Linked DNA regions of Homo sapiens: region 1 is linked to region 2. Evidence: fine-mapped expression QTL. Tissue or cell type: whole blood. Region 2 holds a variant in brackets; the other region holds the start of a gene. All regions are shown on one strand. Distances are from middle to middle.

Region 1 (10,342 bases), 33 kb before region 2:
TAATTGAAATCAACATTTTTCCAGGTAAGAAATTTGCTTTCAGTGTTCGATAAAGAATTTTTATTATATTTAAGTGATTTGCTTTTATTTCTATTTTACTTAGGGCTATGACTAGGAAATTCTACAATTTTAACTGGATTTCTTTTCAGCATCTATTAATATGATAAGCAGTTTTGTTCCTGTTTTCTGTTCATATGGACTAATAGATCTACTAATGTTGACACCCGCTTACAATCCTGGACTAAACTCTACTTGATTATAGAATAGCAAAGCTTGTAATTTCTAAGTTGCTCATTTTTTCACATTTTAACATGTCTGAAATTGGGTCACGCATTACAATTAGTGGTGTCCTATGACTGCTATTGTAGTAACAGATGTGACAGTTGTCATTGCCTGCACACCCGTCAATGTAGTCATAGCTGCTTAGATTGTTGACCCTTCAGTTGAGTTATGGACATTGCTTGTACTCCATGAGTTGACTTTAAATGCTCTATAAAATCTTCTAGGGCCAGGTGCAGTGGCTGACGCCTGTAATCCCAACACATTGGGAGGCTAACAGTGGAGGATCGCCTGAGTCCAGAAGTTTCAGACCAGCCTGGGCAACATGGTGAGACTCCATCTCTATTTTTTTGTTTTTTATTTTATTATTATATACATATTTTTGAGACAGAGTCTTGCTCTGTCGCCTAGGCGGGAGTGCAGCGGCGCGATCTCGGCTCACTGCAAGCTCCGCCTCCTAGGTTCACGCCGTTCTCCCGCCTCAGCCTCCCGAATAGCTGGAACTACAGGCGCCGGCCACCAAGCCCGGCTCATTTTTTTGTATTTTTAGTAGAGACGGGGTTTCACCGTGTTAGCCAGGATGGTCTCGATCTCCTGACTTCATGATCCGCCCGCCTCGGCCTCCCAAAGTGCTGGGATTACAGGCGTGAGCCACGCGCCCGGCCTTTTTTTAAAATTTATTTTTATTTATTTTTATTTTTTTGAGACGGAGTCTCGCTCTGTCGCCCAGGCTGGAGCGCAGTGGCGCAATCTTGGCTCACTGCAAGCTCCGCCTCCCGGGTTCACGCCATTCTCCTGCCTCAGCCTCCCGAGTAGCTGGGACTACAGCTGCCCGCCACCACGCCCGGCTAATTTTTTTGTATTTTCAGTAGAGATGGCGTTTCACCGTATTAGCCAGGATGGTCTGGATCTCCTGACCTCGTGATCCCACCGCTTTGGCCTCCCAAAGTGCTGGGATTACAGGGGTGAGCCACCACGCCCGGCCTCTATTTTTTTAAACAGTAAAATCTTCTAAAATATTACTCCAAGATTTGACACTGAAATGAAAAAGTTTTTGCAAATGCAGAAATTCATAAAATCAGAGCAGTGGAACATAAATTTGATATTAGTAAAGCAACTTTTGTTATCAGAAGAATTACTTCATTTTCCTATATTCTTGCAGAGCAACAATTGAGACACTTATGGAACCTAAGAAAGCTATACATACACACACAAATGAAGTCTATTATGTTTTGCTATTGAGAAACACACAAAAGAATTGTAAGGCACTGGAAAAGTTGCCAAATCTCTTGAAATGGATAAAAGGAATTCCAAAGCAATGAAAGGTTGGTGTCATCAATTCATTTGTTTTGAAGGACTATCATTAAGATGTCAAACATCTTTTTGTCAAAAACTTCTGCTGATGTTGAGCAGAAGGCTATATGGAGCACCCTTTAAGAAATGCTGTGTTACCAATGTTTCTAATGGTCAGAGGATAATATTGTGTGACAAATCCAGAAATCAGCAACTCTAAGTCTAAAAATAGTAAAAAAACAAAAAAACAAAAAAAAAACAAAAAACGAAAGAGTTGGGCTTTGAATGTGAAGATATCTAAGGAATGCCTTATCCTGTTCATTTCACTTATATTTTTTCTTTTTAAGTGTGCACACAGGGATAGATGAGTTGGGAATGAACCTAGACTTAGAGTGCAGTAGTACCCTGGCCACAATGACTGGCCAATCAGTATGAGGATCTGGGTTTTGTTCACTCCTTAGTCTAACTGCCCCTTCCCCATGTTGGATCCTAGGAATCATCCTATGACCATAGGGAGAACCATCCTTAATATGAAGCCAACACATGGATAATGGCAGAGAAGCAAGAGAACCTCGACTGTTGATGACATCATGAAACCACAGGATCACCTCAAGGCAACTGGAATTGGGTTTTCTGTTAACTTGCAAATCAAAGCTTCCTAACTGAATAAAGACTCAGTTAATGTTAGTTGGTAGTGCATGCAATGATGGTTGAGGACACTTGAGACAATCCTGCTTTCTCAACCTGGGGGCAGAATAATACCACCATCTAGCCCTCAGTCAGCCATCGGTTCACCTGGTAAACCATTGGCCACATTTATGGAAGGTTTTAGAAAGAGGTCCCTATTGACTTTGCTTTGCTTTGAGACACACTGTGGAAGTATAGGATTTTTTATGCTTAAAACAAATAAGAAAGAGCTGAATTCAGGGATATTGGCATATAGAGAAAATATTTGAAGCTGATCTATGCACATCTATTTTTGAGATTCACATACAAGTCTTGTTCTTGATTTCGCTTTTACCCATCCACAGAATGGTAACCTGGGCCTGACATATTGAAGTGAAGTATCAGTTTTTGCTCTATTTTCATCTTGATGCTAGCTGCTTCCTGACTGTTCCCAGCGAGCCCAGACACCACAGGGCCATAAGCTTAAAAAGATCATGTTACTTCAGTCACTGCTGAGTAGCAGACGAAGCTGAAGCCAGCTGAATCTAGAAGTGCTATGACGCTGAAAAAGTCAGGAGTCTTTACCCAGATCTGCCTCCTGCAAGCAGTGTTTTCTGCCTGCCCTATGGGACTTGTGAGGGACAGAAAAGTTTCCCAGCCCCTGTCAAGATGGTAACATTATCTAAAGTTATCACAAAGCTTCTAGTCAACCTTAATTTCTACCACCTGAAATTCAGAACCTAAGGCTATTTTACAATCTTTACAAAATTTAAATTATTTTTCTCTTAAAAGCTGGGCAGGTTGGTGGGTTTTCTTGGTTTATTCTTCAGGTTTTTTGTTTTGGTTTGGTTTTTGGTTTTAGTCCTTGAGCTTTGTAAATAAGTTTTCCTGCGCCTGCTTGCCTGTAACTTATTTTTCTGGTCTAATGACTGTTTTTTAATGAGTTCAGCCTGTGCTTTCTTGTACAAAAAGAAACGTGGGCATGTGAGGAGCATATTAATTAGCTATCAGATGTAGCCTGGTTTTTGAAGTCCAGATCTTCAGGATGTTACCGAAGTGTAAATATAAGCATGACTTTTGCACGTGATTAGTAATTACATCACAGTTAAAGCCTCAGGGGACCTTCCACCCCAGAATTCTGCTATCCTCAACCCCTGAATGGCTCTGTCATTAATGGTCAGTCTCCAAGAACTCATTTCCCAAGGAAATGACTTCCTGTTTTGTTCTAAGTGGCCTTCCCTGCAAACCCTCCTCACCTTTGAACTTCCTATTTTGGGATGGAAAGATTGACCCTTCTCCCGCTCCTCTTCACAAGGTAAGGAGAAACAAGGGAGAAGAAAGAAAGGTCCTCTGGAGAGAGATATATGTATCATACATATCTTATACATATATCATATATATCTTATATATCTCATATATATCTTATATATATCTTATATATCATATATATATATATATATATATATATATATATAAAACTACACCCGCATTGCACCAAAGTATACGAAATATTTTCTGGCCTTCAAATCATATGCCTAACTCCTGCAGGAAAACTGCATGGGCACTCAGGCTGATCTCCCTTACCCCACAACTTAGATCCACCTCTCACGTTTTCTAAGTTTATTTCCACGCTGTCCCTGGGCCAGGCTCTAGGGTCCCAGAGGTGAAGTGGAGGAATTCACAGTTTGGTTGAGGAGAGACCCCCTTGAATAGATCAAGCTCCCCAAGTGTTGCTGTAAGTTTACATGGAACATGGAGTCTGAGTGGGAAGTCAGGGAGGTGAATCACGGAAGCCTTTGGACTTTGTACACCTGTGGGCAGCTCCCAGATGAAGGGGGGAAGGTGTTGCAGGCAAATGACCACCTTTGACGGGCGGACATCGGCCTGCTTTGCCACTTCACCTTATGCTGCCCTGTGACTGGTCTTTGCACTGTGTCACCGATATGTCTTTTTTTTTTTTTTTTGAGACGGAATCTCACTCTGTCACCCAGGCTGGAGTGTAGTGGCACCATCTCGGCTCACTGCAACCTCCACCTCCGGGGTTCAAGCTATTCTCCTGCCTCAGCCTCTTGAGTAGCTGGGACTACGGGTGCGCGCCACCACACCCGGCTAATTTTTGTATTTTTAGTAGAGACGAGGTTTTGCCATGTTGGTCAGGCTGGTCTCGAACTCCTGCCCTCAAGTGATCTGCCCGCCTTGGCTTCCCAAAGTGTTGGGATTACAGGCATGAGACACCGAGCCCGGCCAACCACTAATATGTATCGTGAGTCAGCTCTGCTGTCTCTGAAAGTCCAACCTCCTACTTTTTGTTTTTTGTTGTTAAGACAGGGTCTTTTTTTTGTTTTTTAAAGACAGGCTGGAGTGCAGTGGCGCGATCTGGGCTCACTGCAACCTCCGCCTCCCGGGTTCAAGCGATCCTCCCACCTCAGCTCCAGAGTAGCTGGAAATACAGGCACGCGCCACTATGCCTGGCTAGTTTTTGTTTTTTACGTAGAGATGGAGTCTTACTATGGTGCCCAGACTGGTCTTGAACTCCTGGGCTCAAGCGATCCTCCCAAAGCCCTGAGATTACAGGCGTGAGCCAGCGCGCCGGACACAACCTCCTACTTTCATGAAAGAGTGGGCACTTCCAACAGGAGGAGTAAGTGGATGAGCGGTGTGTGACACACCCGCCTCAGCGTCGCCCGGAGTCCGCAAGGCTGCGGCTCACCGTTCTCTGCCCCATAGCTGGCATTGTGGAGTGAAAGGGAACGTGGGTGGAGGATTGAGGTTGGAAATTCTGAATCTGTACATACAGCTTGAAGGGGCTCATCGAATGTGTCGGTCCTTTAGATTCCCCCTGCCCATGGAGGTTAAAAAAAAAAAAAAAACCTATCAAAAGAGCTATTCAAAACCAGGCTGAAGATTGGAAGGAAGTTGGCCAGCCTCGGCTGCAGGACAGGTGCTTCCAGGCTCCATTAGGGGTGTCCAGCGCCTTCTTTTGCCCTAGGCAGCGCCCTGAAGAACGCGTCGGGGCCTCGGTTCGCGGACTTGAGGAGTGGACCGACCGAGCGCTGTGCGTAAAAGGACCGCTGGGGCACACGCCCGAGCGCCACCGGAGCTAGGAGACCGCGGCCCGGAGGTCGGCGAGTCGGGGGCAGGCCCGGAGCTCCTCCCACGGGGGGCGGGGCGGGTCACATGGCGGTGGCGCGGTAGCGCGCGATGCAGCACAGGCTAGAGGCTGCGCAAGCGCGGGGCCCGCCCCTGGGACCCTCCGGGCCGGGCGGTTTGGCCCCTTAGCGCCCGGGCGTCGGGGCGGTAAAAGGCCGGCAGAAGGGAGGCACTTGAGGTAGGTGCTGCGCGCCGGGGCTCCGCGAGGCACGTGATGTCCGTAGGCGGGGCCTGCCGCGGCGTAGGTGGGGAAACTGAGGCAGTGCAGGGCCGGTAGGGTGGGTGCTGGGCTGGTGAGGCGCGCCCCTCGGGCCCGCGCCAACTTTCTTAGGAGCCGCCGCAGCGCTGGCGCTCCCTCCGAGGACGACGACCCTTCCGCCACCCTGCGTGGCGGCCGATGGAAAAACCCTGCGCCCAGACGTCGGAGAACGGAGACGGGGACCCGGCGCTGCTGCGGCGGGCTAGGGCCCCCTCTGTCCACGCCCGCAAGCCTTGAGTGACGCCGGTGGCGCCAACCTTCGCGAATTGTTGGGACAAAGAACAGAGGAGAGGGCCCTGCCCTGGAGCATGGGCCCGGGGGCCGCCCTGCTGGACCAGCCCCAGGTGCGGACCTGGCAGTCCTCGTCCTCGTCTCTGTGCCCGCTTAGGGTCGTGTCTTTTAAGAGGGCACGGTTTCTAGCGTTGTTCAGCGTTTCGGAGGCACCTGTTCCCCCTCTTTCCCAAGAGTCACAAACGCCTGACTTTAAATTGGGTAGAGCCCAGTTGTAAACTTAACAGCCCTGCTGAGGTCTAGGAATGAAAAGATGAACAATCTGCCCCCAGGGTTGTTGCTGGAGCGGGAGGTGAAGGCGCAGGTGGAGATGGTTAGAGGCAAAGGAAGGGAAGTCAAGGCCCAGCCGGTCCAGGGCTGTGGGAAGGAGGCACACCCGGGAGTCCACTGCCGGACCGGGGTTCCCAGCTGCTCCTGCGCCTCTTTTCCTTGCCACATCATGCTGTCTGCACAGCCCAGCAACCCAGAACTCAGCTTTTTTGTTTGTTTTATTTTAATGTATTTTCCTTTGAACCTGGCAGGTGGTTTTTCAAAAAGAAAATAATCAAGATTTGTTTTGAAAAGCATTGTGAAAAAGTCAGCTTGAATAGTCTTGAATGCTCCTGCTCGGGCCCAGCTTTGGAGAATGAGGATTGGGATTTCCACTGCAGACCCCGACTCGTTACCATACTCATTCATCAGAAAACTCTTCATTTTGTGTACAAATAACGTTTTGAGGGTAATCATTGCTCTAGAAATGAAGAATTATACATCGTATTTATTGCACTTTTTGTAAGGTACCTCACAAGGCACCTCCTATACATTTAATCCTTTGATTCTTGCAACTCTGTAGAAGGTAATTAAGGAAGCATTCCCATTTTACTGATGCAAAACAGTTCCTTGTCCAGGTTTATACAGCTTGCAAGAATTAAAGTTAGATATTATTCTTGGTGTGGGCCTTTCCTATATCCCCGTCTTTTATAAGAGCATGTCATTTAGTTGAGACCTTCTGCATTACTTCTGAAGGGGTACAAAAGACATTTCTGATGATTTTCTCATCTCGTGTCATTTAAATGGTGCTCAGAAAGTTTGGATAGGACTGGAACTCTAGGGCTCAAGCCCCAGGCTCTGTCCCTATCTAAGCAATAGGGCAGCTGTCCTGCCAGTTGGGTTCTTGCTTCTTTGTGAAATGTTGAGCAGAAGCTCCAAGTCTCTCTGCTGTGGCTTGTGTGGCAAGAACCATCCTGAGGTTCTGTGCAGAGAGCCAGCCTCACCTTTGAGCTCAGTGGCCTCTGGCACAGGGAAATTACAGCTGGGCAGTGTCCTTTGCCTTCTCTGGCACTGCTAGTGCAGGAGGCAGTGTTAGCTGCTACAGGAATAGCATGGAGCGGGCCTGCAGGCCAGAGGGGCTGAGACAAGCCAGTGTTCCCACCAGACCTAGAACGTTCACCAGAAAGCAGGCCTGCAGTGACACAGCTGCAGAAGTTCACTATTTTGTGCCTGTCCTGCTTCAGATATCCTGTCTTTATAGGGGCACGAGTGAATCTGAGCCCTGCAAAAGAGAGAAAGATAATGCTGCTTTGCCGTTTTCTAGTGCGTTACCGCATTAAAAATTGCTCTTCTTATATAATCTTTATGACAACTCTTTAAAGTGCCCTTGTTTTTAAGAAGACACTGAGGTTCAGAGGGATAAAATAACTCTCAGAGTCAAAGAGAGAAAACCCAGGATTATTGGCTTTTAGCCCAGTGTCTTCTGTGGTATTGCCTTGCCTTCCTATCCACACCCATATAACTTGATGAAGCCGGAGTTCTGAGCCCAGACAGGAGGCTGTGCAAGTGAGATTAGAATGGCTTGCTCTTTGAGGGGTGGGGGGCCCTACAGCTTGAGGAAACAAGAGGACATAATCAGCTACTGGGAAACCCTGAGATACGCCCAAGAGTGAGGAATGTGGGGGCTGGTGCTGCTTTCAGCATCTATTCAGAGGTTTCTGAATCTGGCATTTGAGAGTAGGACTGGGCCAGAACCAGGCAGATACACACCCCAAGGAGCAGGGCTGAGAGTTGGAGACTGAGGCAGGTAGGTGAGAGCTCATTGCAAGTGACTGATTTTGTGGTATATGAAGACAAGGGTGGGTGGAAGGGCATCTGTTGCTCATAAGGCTCTGTGTGCCTGCATCATCAGTATGCTAGACAAGGATGGACAGAGTCTTGTTATTGTGGGGAAGAGAGGTGCAGAATGGCTTCTCAGCGGAGACTAGGCAATGAGACCCTTAAGACATTTGGCTTCAGATTATAAGCTGCTTACCAAGGATTGGGCTTGGGAGAGGCTGATGATGTTCTCTCCAGGCAGCAGATTTCCCAGGCCCTGTTTACGGGCAGTCTTGCTCTTAGCTTGCCTGAGGCCAGTGAACAGGCTTCAAGACCTGCAGGGCCCCACTTCCTGAGCCCAGACTGCCATGCTATTCCAGCCTTAGAGGCCACTGGCCCTTGGCTGGCTGCCCAGGACCTAGCGTGTCTGATGCAGGATAAACAGTCATGGACTGGAAGTTGGGAGACCCAAACCTGAGTCCCAGTGCAGCCACTGACAACCTGCCCTGCCCATGTGACCTTGGACTAGCCAGCTCCTTCTCTGAGCTTTAGTTTCTTCATTTGCTCAGTAAAATGAGCTGAACCAGCGCTTTGAGGGAAGGAGAGGGAAACAGAGGAGACCAGAGAAGGAAGATGAAGCATCCTTTCAAGACTTGTTCACTGAGGGCCTGAGGCAAGGAGGCCCATGTGCACTCTTAGTTTTTTGTCTCCCTCAGCACCTTTTCTTGCTTCTCCCCTATCTCTGCCTCAGGCCAGCTCATTCTGAAGAGGGACGATTCCCTGGGTGGGGCTGGGCTGGGCAGGTGTACCCTTGATGTTTAGAATATGATGCTGTCTCTACTTGTTTCAGACATGATTTAACTCAGCCAGTGCTGATACTTTGTTTCATTAAGACTTTATCAGTTCCTGCCCAGAGGCAGCTCCTGGAACAGTCAGGAGTTAGGCCCAGCAAAGGAGGCAGGGTGAATGTGCACACCCAGCAGAAGAACAGTGGTGGCAGGGGTTCCCATGGCTTTCTAGACATCAGATCCCTGTAGTTGCAGTCACATGGTACTTTAGAGTCTTTGGATGTCAGAGCTAAGACAACCTCATAGAATTTTGAGTTCCTTCCTCTGTATAGATGATGAGATCCAGGCCCCGAGTGTCTTCATACCTTAAGTCAGATTGCCCTGCTAGTGAGCAGTAGAGCGAGGACCCAGCCTAAGGTTACCTAAGTCCCAAGCTAGAGTGTTTTCTTTAATATCAAGCCAGCCCTGTCCAAAATTGCCTTTCATACTGAACTGAAATTGGAATTGAGTAGTTATAAGTTCCAAGTCTGCCTCACTGTGGAATTCTAAGAGTAAAATTCAGATAATTTAATTAACATTTAATGCCTGATAATTACCAGGATCTGTGTTGAGTGCTGGGGATGCAGGAATGAAGACGACAACACATTGTGCCAACATATTGTGGAGACAGACATGTAAATAACTAAAATTTACACAATTCATTTGTGCATTGTGCAGGGTTATGGGTGTGTGCGCACACACATGCACGCTATAGAAGAGGTCAGTGAGCAGTCAGTTGTCAGGGCTTTCAGGAAAGGCTTTGGAGAGGAAGTGTTATGTGTGCTGGGCCTTATGAATAAGTAGGCATTTACGTGGTTGGCCTGGGTCAGAGGGGGGCATCCCGGGCAAAGGAAACAACATGAGCAACACTTGCTGAAGCCAAGCTGTGGAGGGCCCCATCAGCTGGCTTGCTGAGGAGTTTATTGTTAGTGAGAGTCTGAACACAAGGGAAAGGTGTAATCAGGTGGGGGTGTGCTGGGATCGCTCTGACTACGGCTTGGAAAATAAACTATAGAGGACCAGACTAGAACCAAGCCAGATTCATTCTGTGGTTCTTGAAATAGGCTAGGGACAGAGTTATAGGATCCTGGGTTTGGGCAGCAGCAGTGAGGTCGAGAAGAGGATGGGTAGCAGATACATTTTAGAAGATGGACAGAACTTCCTGAGTCGATGTAGGCAGTGAAGGCAAATGAACAGTAAAATGTGAACCCCTGTCCCCCACTGTCCCCCCTCCCTGCCCCCCCATCTACTGAGCCATGGAACTCCAGCAGAGAAATCGACTTTAGTTTTGGATGTGGTACAACCAAGACACCTACAAAACCCCCAAGTGGAAACTTTGGGTCAGAACAGCAATAGGAACTTGGAAGTCAATAACAAAGTGGTGGGAGAAGTGCTGGAAGTCACCCAGGAAGGGAGTGTGGGTTGAGGGAAGCCACCGATGTGGCAGAAAAGGAAGGGAAAGCAAAAGGAGGTAAAGAATAGACAGCAGATGAGGGGCCTCAGAGGTGCC
Region 2 (10,342 bases):
TGGAGCCAGGATGCCCCTGATCATCTCTGATAACTTTAAAAGGAAGGCCTCAGAAGCAGCCCCAGAAGCAAAAGTTTCTCTCTGACCTTCTCCTGCCCTCTTGTTTCTGGCTTTTCATTCTCCCCCAAGGCTACCCATAGAAACTAGAATCCCTCTTCCCCAAGGCAGGTCATCAGAAACCAGAACCGGTTTTACCCAAAGCCAGCCATAAAACCTAAAAATAGTCCTCTCACTCCCCATTCCCCTTTCTGTGTAAAAACTGGTTGGAAAGAAATGATCTGACCTACCGTGTTTGACTGTCGTAAGATACCCATTCCAGAGAGGGTCCCACCCCGTGCCCAGAAGGAAGGAATCCTGCACAGAGAGGCCAAGAAGAATCTAGACAGCCTTGCTGGGTTTCCCCTCTCAGTCTATTACTATTAGATCATACCCTTCTTGTCCAATCATATTTCTACACAGTCCATAATCTGTTGAACCTAAACATAAAAATGGACAATTCCCCTGTATCTTGGGGTCTTCATTCTGAGGGCTCACATACAATTATGATCAAATAAATTTGTTTGCTTTTTCTCCTGTTAATTTGCCTCTTGTCAGTGATTTTTTCAGCAAGTCTGCAGCGGGTGAAGGGCGAGTTTTTCCTTGGCCCTAGCAGTGGCAAGGGTCACAGATGGTGTGGACAGGGGTGCATGGGGAACCCCCAGCTGGAGGAACTTCCAAGGCAGAGATTTGGATAGCGAAGCATGGCTAGGGGAAAACGGAGGAGTCTAGTCTGTTTTGTTTACCTGGTTCTATGTCCTCTCTCCCAGTATGCAGATTTCTCAAAAGCAATGCCTGTGTCTGCTTCCTCTCTTTCCCAGAGCAAAGCATACCATTGCAGTGTAGGGGAGTGGAGGGCAGGGAAGGTGAGCTGTGGGGAAGAGGCTGTAGGGGCTGTGAGGATAGAGGGTGGATGCAGTCAGGGCAGACTGCAGTTTCTTCCCAGCACTAGCTGCCCTCCCTCCATTCTGGGTTGCCAGTGCCCCATGGGGCAAGCAAGAAGGTGTGTATTTGTCAGTTTATGTTTGGGAGGGGAAGGGAAAGAAAGTTGATTTGTTCTCATTTAACCCTTCAAATCCTTTCTACATTTAAAGGAGGATTTGTCATTTTGTTTTGAAGACAGTAACAATTGAGGATGATAGTGGGTTAGATCCCTGGATTAGGGAGGTGTGGGGAGGTCCTTTCAAGGACATGCTTCTTCCAGCTGTACCTGGTCACCTTTCTGTATTATATAATGATGGTCAAGGTCAACCCACACACTAGTTATTGCAGTAGGGGATAGGAGGCAATTCTAAATTTTACTGGGAGCGATGGGAATTCGTTTAGAGGGTTTTTAGAAGAGTGACATGATCTGATTTCTATTATTCTGGCTGCTTTGAGAGAATAGATTTTAGAGGATCAAAGGTGGCAGCAGGGAGCCCATTTGGGAGGCTGGTGCAATGATCCAGGCAAGAGAGAATGGTGGTGGCAACCAGGTGGGAGCACAGAAGATAGTGAGAAGCGTCATGATGGATATATTTGAAGGCAGAGCTAAGAGGATTCTTTAACTGTTGGATGTAGGATGTGACAGAAAGAGGAGCTAAGAGGATTCTTGAACTATTTGGATATAGGATGTAAGAAAAAGAGCAGTCAGGGTTACCTTCATGATTTTTCTCCTGGACAACTAACTGCTCATGAATTTTTGATCATTTTACAGCAGAAAATGATGGGGTAGTAGAAGGTTTTACTGTGCTATAATAGTTACAATGAATGAATGAGAGGTATAAGTATCAACTTGGATGCACCGAAACAAGGAAGGAAAAAAGCTTCAGAATGTACATTCAGTAGGATACAGTTTACATAAATGTGTAAGGCTTGCAAACAGTATTGTGTAAGCTCCATATATAGATGGTAAAAGTGTAAAGACAAATACAGAATAATTACAGTCAGGGTTGAGCCCCATCTGCGAGCCTCACACTAAACAAAACAAAACGAAAAGAAAAAACATGCCATTGCTCAGTCCAGATCCTAGTCCAGTTAAACCAGAATCTCTGGGGCTGGATCGATCCAGGCATCAGTATGTTTTAGAGCTCCCTAGGGGATTCTAGTATGTAGGCAAGGTGGAAGACCACTGCCTTACCTTGACAAACAATTGTGAAATCTTTTAAGAAGCAGAGGAATTTTCCCCTTTCGTGCCAAGTAGTCGTCCATGTCTGTTCTGAAGTTAGTTAAGAGACACCCATGCCCTAATTTCCATGGTGTTCAGCCAGGAAACATGAATAAAGTCTCTCAAGAGACAGCTGAGCCCAGAACATGGTCTTCCAATATCAGTTTCTGCTAAAGGGAACTCCTTGGGGAAATGGCTGATTGCAGGGTTGGGGCAGAAAATGTACAAGATGAGCCTGTAACATCTTGTTGTACCAGATACCAAGCAAGCTCTCAATCACCACTAAGGGCTTGTATAAAGGACAGACTCAGGAGACAACTCTCACTTGCCAAAGATGGGACTCTTTGAGCATCAATAAGAATAATGGCAATGAATTAAAACACATCAGATGTTCAAATCAATGAGTTCATAATGATCCTTTAAAAAAAGAAAATCTCTGGATGATGCTAAGAAAGCAACTCATTTGAAACCTGGTAAAGAAAGACAAGCATTTATCCTGCCTTTGTTACTTGAAAGTTACCGAAGACTTGATGATGGAAGTTTCTCATTGCAGAAGCACTCGTTAAGGCCCAGGTCCAGCCATAATTAGAGTGAGAGTTGCCAAGGGGTGGCCAGTGGGAGATACCTGAGTCCCCGAAAATGCCTCTCTCAGTCTGTCCACAGGGCAGCTCCTTGCAGAGCTTTGTTCCAGCAGAAGATGCCTCTAATTGCACTCTTCATCCAACAAGATGTGCTGGTCCCACTTGCTACACTAAATGCTCTCCCAGCACAGTCTGAGTCAGTCAAAATTCTTGATCTTGGGGCCGGGCACGGTGGCTCATGCCTGTAATCCCATCACTTTGGGAGGCTGAGGCAGGTGGATCACTTGAGGCCAAGAGTCTGAGACCAGCCTGGCCAACATGATGAAACCTTGTCTCTACTAAAAATACAAAAATTAGCCGGGCATGGTGGTGCGCACCTGTAGTCCCAGCTACTCAGGAGGCTGAGGTAGGAGAATCGCTTGAATCCAGGAGGTGGAGGTTGCAGTGAGCCGAGATCATGCTACTGCACTCCAGCCTGGCCAACAGAGCGAGACTCTGTCTCACAACAAAAACAAACACACAAAAGAAACAAACGTTGGAAAGGATGTGGAGAAAAGGGAACCCTTACACACTGTTGGCAGGAATGTAAATTAGTACAGCCATTATGGAAGACAGTATAGAGTTCCTTAATATAGAGTTCTTATATGATCCAGCAATCCCACTACTGGGTATTTACCCAAAGGAAATGAAACCAGTATGTTGAAGAGATACCTGCATGCTCACGTTCTTTGCAGCACATTATTCACAATAGCCAAGATAAGTATACATCAATGGATGAATGGATAAAGAAAATGTGGCATATGTACACAAAGGAGTACTTTTCAGCTTTTAAAAAGAAGGAAATCTAACACTGGGTGTGTTAGTGCACATGTAGTTCCAGCTACCCAGGAGGCTGAGATGGGAGGATTGCTGGAGCCCAAGAGTTTGAGACCAGCTTGGGCAACATAGCCACACCCCATCTTTAAAAAATAATAAAATAAGGAAATTCTGTCATTTGTGACAACATGGGTGAACCTGGAGGCCATACGTTAAGTGAGATCATGCAGTATCTGTCTTTCTGTGCCTGGCTTCACTTATTTGTGGAATTTTTTTTTTTTTTTTTTCAAAAATTGAACCCATAGGCCAGGCGCGGTGGCCCATGCCTGTAATCCCAGCACTTTGGGAGGCTGAGGCGGGTGGATCACCTGAGGTCAAGAGTTCGAGACCAGCCTGGCCAACATGGTGAAACCCATCTCTTTTGTATTTTTGTACTAAAAATAGAAAAATTAGCCAGGCTTGGTGGCGGGCACCTGTAATCCCAGCTGCTTGGGAGGCTGAGGTGGGAGAATTGCTTGAACCTGGGAGGTGGAAGTTGCAGTGAGCCAAGACCACACCATTACACTCCAGCCTGGGCGACAGAGTGAGGCTCCATCTCAAAAAAAAAAAAAAAAAAAAAAAAAGGAACCCATAAAAGCAGAGAGTAGAATGCTAGTGGATGGTGAAATTCTGCACATTAGATGGGCTGGGGGTGCCATTGGATATCACCCCTGGAAATGAGATGCACCACTGGGCTAGCAGCCTAAAGCTATACACCAGGCTGACTAGGGAGCCTGCCAGGAGGTGTAACTGACTCTGGGTTCATGTTCTTTATGAGCTCTTTGGTACCTACCTAGGAGTCAGTGCTCATAAAAGAATGATAAGAAATCTGTCCCTGACCATGGCAGATGTTGCCTCCTTCACAGCCACTGTTTTGGCAGCCCTGCAGACATCCTTCATTTCTCTTGGGAAGATTGTTTTACATACCAATATTGCTCTAGACTTTCTTTTAGCCCAAGTGGGAGGAGTGTGTGCAATTGTTAACACCTCCTGCTGTACCTGGATAAGCACATCAGATTTCATAGAAACACAAGTAGGCTGGGCGCGGTGGCTCACACCTGTAATCCTAGCACTTTGGGAGGCCAAGGTGGACGGATCACCTTTGGTCAGGAGTTAGAGACCAACCTGGCCAACATGGTGAAACCCCATCTCTACTAAAAATACAAAAATTAGCCAGGCATGGTGGTAGGTGCCTGTAATCCCAGTTACTCAGGAGGCTGAGGTGGGAGAATTGCTTGAACCGCGGGCGGTGGAGGTTGCAGTGAGCAGTGAGCCAAGATTGTGCCATTGCACTCCAGCCTGGGCGACAAGAGCAAAACTCCATCTCAAAAACAAAAAAAAAAAAAAAGGAAAGAAAAGACACACAAGTAGAAGAAATTCAGGAGCAGACCCTCACAAGCAGAAAAAATTCAGGAGCAGGCCCACTGGCTGCAGACAGTGGGGCCACCTGAAGGATCCTTCTTAGACTTCCATAGCGACTTCTTAACTGGATCGCTGTGTCCAAGGCTAGGTCATGCTCCAGGCAGCCCTGGTTATTCTGCAGTTGTAGGGGTCCTCCTGGGCCTCGTGAAATGGATTCTGGCTATGGCTTAATGATGTCTCACTGGGATTGTGTCAGTTAAAGTGTTCTCGAACTAATGAGACAGACCAAACCCCTGCCTCCAAATCCAGGGAGGTTGGTGGGATATGAAATTGACCAGCTTCGCTAAGGGGGATATCTGGGTTTCGGATGGACTACAGAGCAGTTCTCCAGATGGCCTTGGACTGACCCAGTTCTCCCAGCTTTCTCACTGTAGTTCTCAAGAATAACTGTAGAATGTGCTGGGAATGCAATAGCCTGAGGTCAGGAGGAACTGGCCAGAACAGCCTGGGCTTGTTCCTGTCCCTGCTATGAAAGAATGCCCTTCAGGCCCGGAGAGGCGGCTCACGCCTATAATCCCAGCACTTTGGGAGGCCAAGGGGCAGATCACCCGAGGTCAAGAGTTCAAGACCAGTT[G/A]GCCAACATGGTGAAACCCTATCTCTACTAAAAATACAAAAATTAGCCAAGCGTGGTGGCGCACACCTGTAATCCCAGCTACTTGGGAGGCTGAGGCAGGAGAATCACTTTAACCCGGGAGGCGGAGGCTGCAGTGAACTAAGATTGTGCCACTGTGCTCCAGCCTGGGTGACAGAGCAAGACTCCTCAAAAAACAAAAGAAAACAAAACAAAAGATGATGACGAAGAAGAAAGAATGGATTTGGGGAAAAAAACAAAAACCAGCAGTGTCTGCCATAATATATTTATGAGAAAATACATGAAAACTTGTAACAGTATTTGCTCTAGGAACAGGATACTGGTGATTGGGGACATAAAGGAGAATGTCCCTTTTAATACCCTTTTGAACTTTTATAATCTGTTCCATATGAGTATATTAACTAATCACACACTTTTAACAGAGTAATAAAAATGCACCATACTGCGTGCTTGGTAAACCTCTCTAGCTAGTTCACTGACAAGAAGTTTTGTGCCCTCACCCTTAGCCCCTCAGAGAGGGCTATTTGTGTTGTGAAACTCAGGCCACATAGAACTGTAAGAAATCCATTTGATTCAAGGAGCATAGGAAATCTCATGGGCCTGTATGGGCAGGAGCCTGGAAAGGGACACAAATCCAGCTAAGTGTCCTGGGGGGTGCCAATCTTCCTGAGCCAGTGGACCCAGCTGTTATTGGCCCTCCCTTGTGCCCTTCATGACTGTGCTAGGCTTCCTCAGGGGGAGAGAAGGCCAGTTCTGCTGCTAAGCTCTCACCCCAGCACTGCTTATACACAGAGGCAGGAGGAGGCCAGATGCCTCTGGCCAGGAGGGGCTAGGGTGTGGAGCCTGGGGGCCAAAGCACAGCCAGCTCCTGGGAAAGCGGGTGCTGCTTGAAGCAGGAAGTCTTTAAAGTCTCTGCCATGCAGAGCTCTGGGCTGCCCTTATCGGACTCTCATCTTTCCCCAGCCTTCATGACTCAAGAGAGCCAAATTTATGAACCTCGTCATTCTTCAGTTGATGATAATTTTTAGAAAGTAGATTTTCCTTGAGCATTTAAACATTAAATGTAATCAGTTACACTCTTCCCAACTGTAATGACTCAGTCTCATAAATGTTTAAAACGCCTTTAAAAATTGACAAATAATAATATAATCATTACAAAACTGGATCTGTATATGCATACTAAAACCAGTTACAAATGCTAATATGTGGTTCTAAATTTGCTTCTTTATTATTTGCAGTTAGCAGCCTTAGCAGCAGGTGGCAAGACATTATGTGCCCAGATGTTGCTGTCCCATCCTGGGGACCTCAGAGTTGGCCATGCCACACCTTCCATTGGAGGCACCCAGACTCTCCACGGTCTGCACCACAAACCCCGGTCCTGGGCACATCGACTGGACCGGGGTGGACCCTGGACCCTAACTCAGGCCTCTGTGAACTAGCCAGGGACCTGTAAAACCTGTACAAAGTTTTTCCCCAGAAGGGGCGCAGATGGTGACAGCTGACCGGCAGAAGGCAGGGAGGAGCCCTGAGGGGAAGCTGGCCAGAAGTTGCTGGCACTGTGGAGATAAATGAGATACCAATGTCTCAGTGAGAATAGAGAGTGGGTGACGTGGAGGCAGTACTAGATCCTGACCTCTGCTGGCCAGTTCTCCTAAGGGCCTGGCTGCAAGGTTGTGCTGGGTGGCTTTCTACTTCCTGTGCTCAGACAGGCAAAGGAAAATAACTCAAAAGCTGTTCTAAGCCAAAGTGATGGCATGTGCCAAGTGCACAGGAAATAGAAGCTGGTCCAGAAATGTGTATGCAAGAAGTGAGGGGAGCAGGACTGAGTGGAGGGCGACATGGAGCTGTGAGGCCTCAACTGATCCCACAGGAGCTCTGAGTTGAGATCACCCAGCAGATGCCCCGAAATGAGACAAGGGGCTTTGTAACTCCCACCCATCACTCGTTTAGTGGACATAGGCTGCACCCTGCACCAGGGATGGGGGTGGGGCAGAGCCCTGGTGGGGGGCAGCTTCCTTCTGCCAGGGGCAATTCCAAGTGAGTGATCTAATCTAACACAGTGGGTCCTGAAGTGTGGTCTAGGTGGTCACAAACCAGAGGTGACAGGCTAGGTCACTGTGTGTGAGGCAGGCCTGTGGTCAGAATATGGTTGGAGCAGCCCACTCAGAGGCCAGGCCTGGTTAATCCCTGTAGAACAATGGAAGGAGCTGTGTTCATGAAATGAACCTCTAAGGGTTTGCAGGAGGAGGACTGATGGGATCAGATTTTCTTTCTAGTGTGAGGGAGGGGGAACCGGAGCTCAGGAGAGGGATCTGGCCACAAAGATGGGTGGGGGCGGTGCACAGAGGATTCTAAAGACACAGAGTGGCACAGAGGGCAGAGAGCCTGTGGAGATGAGAGGGGGAAGAAAATGGTGTTAGATGTTCCCAGCATCTGGGAAAAGTAGCATTTGTAGGAAATGGGGAGCAGGATCTGCAAAGAGACTGAGGAGGAGCTGCGTGCAGGACACGTGGTCCCGAGTGGGTAGAGGAAGAGAGCCAAGGGCTCCAGGAAAGAGAGAATCAGCAGTGCCAGACAAGGACTGAAAAGCCCTCCCTTCCTCCCCCAACACACAGAAAGACAGACTGACACACACGCACACACACACACACACCCGTGGTTTAATAAACTTGGAGTTTCCTCAGACTGCCTCTAGGTGGCAGTGTATGCACGCGGCATCAACTGCTGCGCAGCTCTCCCCGGGGACTACCAGATTCTCCATGGAACCAACTAAAACTCCCCAAAGCTGTGTGACAGGGACAGGGAGAGGTACCTGTGATGTTTGCAACATCCATCTGTTTTCTGCTCTGTCTCAGATGAGTCTAGGTGTGCCTCTCTCCCCTACTTTGTAGTGGTAGGGGGAACTTTCAGTGGCTCTCCTAGCAGTGTCTGCGCCTAGAGGTCCCAGGGCCTTAGCCGACCCTCAAATCTCTAGGTGTGAGATTGAGACAGACTGGGGACTCAGGTGTGGTCATAAAGCTGACAGTCCTGCTTCTACCACTTATCAGCTAGGTGATTCCCTCTGAGCCCCCTTTCCACATTTATGTTACTAAGTCAGAGCTTTGTGAAGGTCAGTTTGCATGACATTATTCCAGAAGTAACACTCTGTGCTGTCAAGTGGCTTTGACATCTGCACAGATCCCATAGTTCCCTGGGTAGACATGAGCAGCTCTCCGGCCTGAGTGGACCTAGCTTTCAGGGGCAGAGTTGGGACTTAGCCCGTGCAGTCCGATTCCTGGTATTATACTTGCTCTTAACATCTAGGATCTGCTCCCTCCCTTGATGTCTTATTTGGCCACATCTGGGGTTTTCTTCTTTGGCAAAACTTTCTTCTCCCATGTGGAGTCATTACAGTGTGGTTGATGCACAGGGCTGAAAGGGCCGTGGGATGTCACCTGTTGAACAACCTTTCTTTCTCTGCCACCTTCAGTTTATGAAATGGAACAACTGAGGGCAGAGAGATGACAGGACTCCTTGTCACCACCATCTGCTTAGACAGTCTCAGATGCTATAATTAAAGGGTGTTCCACTGTGTCTTATCCTCACACATGGGCTCCTATCACAAATCTTAGTCCTAATTCTTTGCAGGGGACGCCACTGGCAGGCAGAGGTCCCATGGCTGAGGCTGTAGATGCAAATAAGAGTAGAAACCTCCTAGAAGTTTGCAGATTCCTTAAAATAGATTGTTCTGGAACAAATAGGCCAAGTATAGAATGACAGGCCAAGAAATAAATTTCCTTTCTGTTCTCTTTTCCCCAAGGCTCCCTAACCTCTTTCTTCAAGAAAGGCAACACCAGTGCAAAACTGACCTTGAAGTAAAAGTTCTACCAAAGATGTTGGCGCCTAACCCATTGCCATTGCCTGCACTCCAAGTCCTGCCATATACTGATGGAGTGACCCATCTTCCCACTAGCCTCTTGGTCCTGACCTCCTCACCCTCAGGGCCATTTGTTTCTCCGTTTCTTCCATCTCAATCACCTGGTCCCATGGATACACACCTCTGTCTGACCACAGCCTTGTGTCACCGTATCTCCCTTCTTCACATGCTGAGGGCCCTCCAGCCGCAGCCTCATCTTCTTTCCCCCTATCTACTAGCCCCTCCAGCTGTCACTTCTCTCCCCTAGTAGCCAAGCCTCAGGATACAACACCTCAACTGCTTTATTTCCAACCTTCTGGAATCCTTTGCACCATTGTTTTTCTATCATGCTCTCCCGGCAAACCCCAGATTTTGATCAATCCTGCTGTCTGTGCTCTCTGCACTTGCACATACTCCAGCTGCTGAGTACTGATGAAAAAGGTCATGTAATCTGAGATGTGTGTCACTCTCACTCTGGGTCTCCATTTGCAGCTGGGCTTGCAACCCTTCCCCAAACATTCCTGCTTGCCCCTGCTCAGAGGTGTCTCTCGTTCTCTCCTAGGTTTCTCTGAAATCCTTGGATCCCACCCAACACCCACTTAACCTTCAGCAGGTGCCCATTCTACTTCCAGAGAAAGTGGACCCCTTCCCTTAGGAAGCCCCACCGAACCCACAAACATCTGCATCCTCACCCAGCTTGTCTTCCTGCCTCCTGTCTCTATGAAGGTCCTGCTGTCCTCCAGTTTGGGGCTCTCCTCTTGTTCTGAACACCAATCCTTCCCACCTTCTCCAGCAAGCGTTTTCTCTCTTCCTTC

The links. PIP is the estimated chance that this variant, and not a neighbour inherited with it, causes the effect.
Region 1: it holds the start of PRXL2A, and the variant in region 2 is fine-mapped to the expression of PRXL2A in whole blood (TOPMed, PIP above 0.99).

The regions. Positions count from the first base shown.
Region 1 is chr10:80,403,078-80,413,419 of GRCh38, forward strand. PRXL2A (peroxiredoxin like 2A) reads left to right here and starts at 5,474. Exons shown (of 6, transcript NM_032333.5): 1 at 5,474-5,566. RefSeq lists silencers at 597-769, 5,253-5,542 and enhancers at 5,828-6,421, 7,268-7,767.
Region 2 is chr10:80,436,537-80,446,878 of GRCh38, forward strand. It overlaps PRXL2A (peroxiredoxin like 2A), which reads left to right. Exons shown (of 6, transcript NM_032333.5): 6 at 1-579. Among named protein-coding and RNA genes, the nearest start is that of TSPAN14, 13 kb to the right of the region's middle. The variant G/A (reference allele first, on the strand shown) is at 5,615.